Regions from separate parts of the Homo sapiens genome. Here region 2 is linked to region 1. The links come from fine-mapping of genetic effects on gene expression. A gene starts in region 1. The other region holds a variant in brackets. All regions are shown on one strand. Distances are from middle to middle.

Region 1 (2,915 bases):
TCTTAATATCTCCCTCCCCAGTCCCCATCTAAATCCAGCGTATCTTCAGGACAAGGCTCGTAAGTTCTACCTCCCACATAATGTTTTTTTCTGTTCATTGGAACTCACCAATATCTCCCTAGTAGTTATTTGTCAGAGCTATGTAGTATAAGCTCTAATTTGTTTAATTACTGAGCATCTTCATTGCCATATCCATTCAATTTAATTCCAGAAACATTTTTGAGCCCCTGTGCCAAGAACAGGGCTAGGTAGCAATGAGGGTCACTTTTATGCAGGGACAGGGGCTAGAAATTGGCCTTACTAAGAAGTGTAAGACCGACTCTTGCTCATTGCCTTTCTTAGCATCTGCTTCATCGCAGGCAAGGACTGTGTTTATTTGGCTTGCATAAGCCCCATATTAGAACTTCCTCATAATATACAACATGCCAAATCATCGAAACTGCGTCACCCGGAGTTCAAACTTCATGAGCCTGGATTAGGGTCTGGGTTCCAATGAAAAGTGTTTTCTTTAGTTCTCTTTCTCTTGCATTAAGGATCACTATTTACACAGCTTCTTGTTAAAGTATCACCGCCTAGTACTTGGGTTCCTGGTCACACTTTCCCCCTTATGGAAGGGCTTACTGCCAGGTCTTTCAGACTCTGGAGCCAGACTGCTTTGGATTTAAATCTCAACTCCTCCACTAGTAGTTCTGTAATCTGGTCAGGTTACTTAACTCCTCTATGCCTCACTTTCCTCCCCTGTGTAATGAGGATAACAATATCATAAGGTTGGGGAAAGGGTTAAATGAGCTAACAGTTCGTTTAACAGAGTAATCACTCAATGAAATGTTATCCCCTAATACATGTCACTACTAGATTATTTCTCGCCCTTAAAATGTAAGAGACCGTTTTTCCTCTTTTCTTCCATCCGTGTCTCCAGCTTCTAAACTGCAGGCGAATAAACCTCGAATGAGTAAATGAACCCACCCAGTCGCTAGTTATTTCTGCATTTCCAATGTTGTGCCAGCAAGAGCAAAGGCAAATGGGCAAGTCAAAGTAGGCTTCTTGTAAAAGGTCTTCCATTACTGGGTTTTACTAGAGGCCCTTGCGGACCATCACATCTCAAAAGGGGGGAAAGCTCGTATGAGGCAGTGCCAGCTACCTTTCGGGAATCACCTTGGGCAGAAGGCCTTTTTGCAAAAAGACTCGGCAGCCCGGGCCCCGTAGGTTCGGCGCATGCGCAGCGCGCTCGGCGCCCGGGTTCCTTCCTCCGCGCCACCCGGAAGCCTCGGCGCGACCCAGTCCCCCTCCCCCTCCCCTCGCCGGCTAGGGTGGTGCGTGCCGGCAGGCCGGTCAAGGAGGCGGGACACGTCGGCGCTACCACCGCCACCGCCGCCGCCGCCCCTCCTCCCGTTCCAGCTGCCGCTGCCGCTTCCTGGGCTGAGTCCGCCCGCGGTCCCGGCGGCGCCAGGTGCGTTCACTCTGCCCGGCTCCAGCCAGCGTCCGCCGCCGCCGTAGCTGCCCCAGGCTCCCCGCCCCGCTGCCGAGATGGCGACGCGCTCCTGTCGGGAGAAGGCTCAGAAGCTGAACGAGCAGCACCAGCTCATCCTATCCAAGCTTCTGAGGGAGGAGGACAACAAGTACTGCGCCGACTGCGAGGCCAAAGGTAGCTTGGACGTCGTCGCTGCCCACGGTCGGGGCCTCTTGCGACCGGTGACCTTCCCGCCGCTGCGGCGCTCGGGGCCCGAGCGGACGCCTCGGCTTCGCTGGCCGGCTCCTGCCCTGACTGGAGGGCGGGTGGCTGAGCGGGCGGGCGCGGGGCTCCTGTCGACCCTCAAGTCCGCCAGAGGCGGCGGCGAGGTCAGGCCCGCAGGCCCTGTCAGTGGCCCCAGCCTCCCCTCCTCCCAGACACGGGTTTGAGCAGGTGCCAGGGTAGCGATGCTCGGACCCTCCACAGGGCTGGGGGTAGGAGCGAGGCTGGGAGCGCGGAACCGGGCACGGGTCTGGGCAGAGCTTAGGGTTAGAGAGTTGCCCTCCTAGCTCTGCTCATAGCTATCTCTGTGGGTGGGGCCGCGCTTAGGTCTGGATCCCCTCCTCTACCCTCCGGTGTGACCACGTCCTCCCACTCCGGGCTCGGATTCTTGGTCTCCTAGATGGAGCCCTACCTGCCTGCCCACCTGACAGCTTTTGTACAAGGCTTTTATCTCTGCTTCCTGAAAAAGAGTATGGTGGTCTTTTTCGGTGGGTTTGAGTTTTACGGAATAAATTAATTGGAGAAAGGTCTTTATTAGTAGTAGTATTGTTTTTTAGTCTGGTTATTAGCCAGAATGAAGAGGAATTTCATTACATGAGTCTCTTGGAGGACGGTGGGTTTGTATTTCTGAAGATTTTAGTAATTAGGTTTTCTCTGACCAGCTAGTTTGGGAGAATATGTGGACACTGATTTGTGTACCTCATAAATGCTGAAGGTTCATTTTAAAGATCTAGAGATGGAAAAAACCTAATTTTAGTTTTTTCGGTTGGAGGGCTTCTGCCTCAGCCTTTGAAACAGATATACTATTTTTAGCTGCTATGTTTTGTGTTTGGAGATCTGATTTATGTTTAATGTCTTGTAAGTAATCTCAAGGGAAATATTTCTTTTTTTTTTAAAGAAATGTCTTGTGTAGTTAAGAAAAGATCGTGTATATTTTTAATTGGTTTATTTCGTTATTGGGTGAGAAATAGGGTAGTTCTCTAAAGCAGGAGACAGTCTCTTTGGGGAATGTCCTTTAAGATTTCTGTGTTATTTGACTTAGACTTTTCCTGAAGCTTTACTGTTCTATCTCAATACTATATAAATGAGTCACATTTCAGTAGGCTGATAATATTTGACTAGACTGAGCCACACAGCATCAGCAGGTTACTTCACTGTCGTAACAGGTACTGAATTACTAGAA
Region 2 (2,915 bases), 140 kb after region 1:
TCCTTTTCTTTCTTTATTAAGTGATAAGATTTGCCTCGATGATCTCTAGAGCCTCTTTTGCCAATACATAGCTTTAAATTTAGAATTGCTTGTTTCGCCTATTGAACATAGGGACTGATTCCAAACATCATCTAACAGTATCCTTAAAGGTGGATTTCAGATAGCTACATAATTAGTTTTTATTCAGTGACTTTTCCTCACTATTATTTCAAACTGGTTTCTCGCCTACATTAGTTACTGCTCTCTTTAATCAGGTTTTTTTTTTTTCTGTTAAAACACAAAGTCTAATTTAGGAGAAAATAGAACCATTTATTTCTAGTGCAGGCTGTTTCCCTGTGTGTGTGTGTGTGTGTGTGTGTGTGTGTGTGTGTGTACACACTTACTGGTTTCTTGCATATATGCCTTGGTGGAGTATTCTTAGTTTAAAATAGATTGTTTTCATTGGCATAGAGTCCCTAAAGTATGTATTGTGATATTTTTTAATGTAAAATAATGTCTCTTGTGCAGATATTTGCCATTAGCTTCTTGACGTTTTTAAGAGAAAATCAATTCACAAAGTATATAAAAGTAGAATAAAAATTCCAGGAAGGAAAGTGGAGAAGCAGTGACGCTATAAGAGAAGACCACTGCTTTTGATAATACATACTTACCAGCATCAATACATTTATTTCAAGATACGGCAAGTATTTGGGTATTTAAGGAGATAATGTAGATGAATAATGATTTAAAAAAAATTAGTTGGGAAAGAAATGAAAACAACCATCAAACTTCCTCATTGAACAAACCTTTTATGTTAATACAATTTAAAAAATACATTTGTATTTGATAAATATGTCAGCTAACCTATTAATATAAGCACAAGATAACAATTGCAAATCTGTTGAACTTGAAATTTCAATATAACCATGTAAAAGTGACAACCACTTGTAAATCAAATAAATTATTCTTAGTAAATCATTAAATTAAATGGCTCATTGCCAGATGCTAGATTGATAGGTTATGTTGTTTAACAATCTGACAGATACATTTACACACCCACCAAGCTCTCATTGTAATTTAAGCTAAATAAACCTTTCATATGATGCGTGAATGCATTTTAGAACAAGATATTTTCAATAAATAATACTTTTATAAAAATCATAGAAACATGGTATAGGTGAGTAAATGCAGCAGATGTCTCACAGAACATTTGTATAAGTAGTTTTGGAAGATTCTTTATATTTTCCTCAAAT[C/T]TTTACATTTCTAGCTTAAAGCTAGATCTTGAAGATTAGTTTGATGATGATCTTTTGTTTATAGATTTTTAAAGGAAATAATAGATTCAGTATCACTATATATTAGGTTTAGGAAGCATTTTAGTGTTGCTTCCCTGTTGCCCAAGTTTTATTATGGTATAGAATGCTAGTTGCTGTTAACAACTCCTCATCTTTCTTTAGCTAGGAGGCATTAAAAAAGAAAAAATCTTTTTCCTCTGAAGCAGGAAAGATTACAGTGTAGTACCCCTCAGTAAAAATAAATAATCTGTCTTGTTTGGTAAATGTATAGGGTTTCTTATTCTTTAACCAAGAAATTGGTAAATGTATGTTTCCTCCAAGTGTATTTTCTTTCTTTTCTTTTTCTTGAGATAGGGTCTTTCTGTGGGGCTCAGGCATGCGTAGAACTCCTGAGCTCAAAGGATCCTTCTGTCTCAGCCTTCTGCACCTGACTAGCTGGGACTGCAGGCATACACCAATGTGCCTGTCTCTCCTAGTAGGTTTTTGATAGTCTCTTTCTTCTGCTTCCCCATAATATTCAAACCATATACATTTGTAAGAAGTCACAAAATCCATGTAAGCAAGAAGAAAAAATTAATGTTACCACTTAGAAAAAATGATCACTAATGCCTTGGCATTCATCCTTCCTAATTGTTTCCCATGGAAATATATATATCCACATGGGATCATATTATACATATTATTTTGTAACCTACTTTGTCCCTTTGTCATTTGACAATATTTTGACTGACTTTTCTTTGTTTTTTTCTTTTTTAGATACAGGGTCTCACTATTTCATTCAGGCTGGAGGGCAGTGGTGTGATCATAGCTCACTGTAGCCTCAAACTGGGCCCAAGGGAATCCTCCTGTCTCAGTCTTCCAAGTAGCTAGGACTACAGGAGCATGCCATCATGTCTGGCTAATTTTTTAAAAAGTTTCTTAAAGTTGAGGTCTCATTGTGTTGACCAGGCCGGTCTTGAACTCCTGGCCTCAAGTCAGGCATAAGCCACTGCACCTGGCTCCCCTTTTTTTATTGATACATATACTGTGCCTTTCTGTCTTTACTAACATTCCATCAAATGGATGTAGCATAATTTACCTTCCACTGAGCACAGTAAGACTCTACTTAAAGTTTATCTCTCTTTGGGATAATGAAAATCTGTATACATAATCTGTGTACAACTGTGTAATAACTTCTTACAATCAATTTTTAAAACTGGAGTTGCTGAGTCAAAGGATAATAGGCTTTTAAAAGCCTTTTGAAAAATATTAACAAACTACTAAAAGATGCAGATAGAAGAACCTATACTTGATTACAAGACTTTAATTTGATTCTCAACTTTACTGTTTACTAGATGTCTAACTACTCTGTGCCTCAGTTTCTTCATATGTAAATCTTTTTGGACATTTCTGAGTACCTACTACATGCCAAGTGCTATTTTTGGCATTAGGGATAGAGTGGCCAGGAGGCTGTTTTGTTTCTTGTAGGATGTTCAGCAGCATCTTACCAGTCCTAACAGTAAAAAGTGTCTTCAGAGACATTGTTAAATGCCCCCTGGGAAGCATAATCACTTCTCACTTGAGAATTGTTGATTCAAAATCTAGATCCATGAAACTGGGTCTCGATAGAAGAATGAAAACCTGCCTGTTACGCGATCCTCGGGA

The links. PIP is the estimated chance that this variant, and not a neighbour inherited with it, causes the effect. A credible set is the group of variants that fine-mapping cannot tell apart.
Region 2: its variant is the best candidate, but not a certain one, in a credible set for the expression of SMAP1 in whole blood (INTERVAL, PIP 0.53).

The regions. Positions count from the first base shown.
Region 1 is chr6:70,666,497-70,669,411 of GRCh38, forward strand. SMAP1 (small ArfGAP 1) reads left to right here and starts at 1,387. Exons shown (of 11, transcript NM_001044305.3): 1 at 1,387-1,645. The coding sequence starts at 1,528. RefSeq lists silencers at 1,169-1,568, 1,719-1,948, 2,069-2,128.
Region 2 is chr6:70,808,569-70,811,483 of GRCh38, forward strand. The region is part of intron 6 of SMAP1 (small ArfGAP 1); the gene reads left to right. Among named protein-coding and RNA genes, the nearest start is that of SMAP1, 140 kb to the left of the region's middle. The variant C/T (reference allele first, on the strand shown) is at 1,233.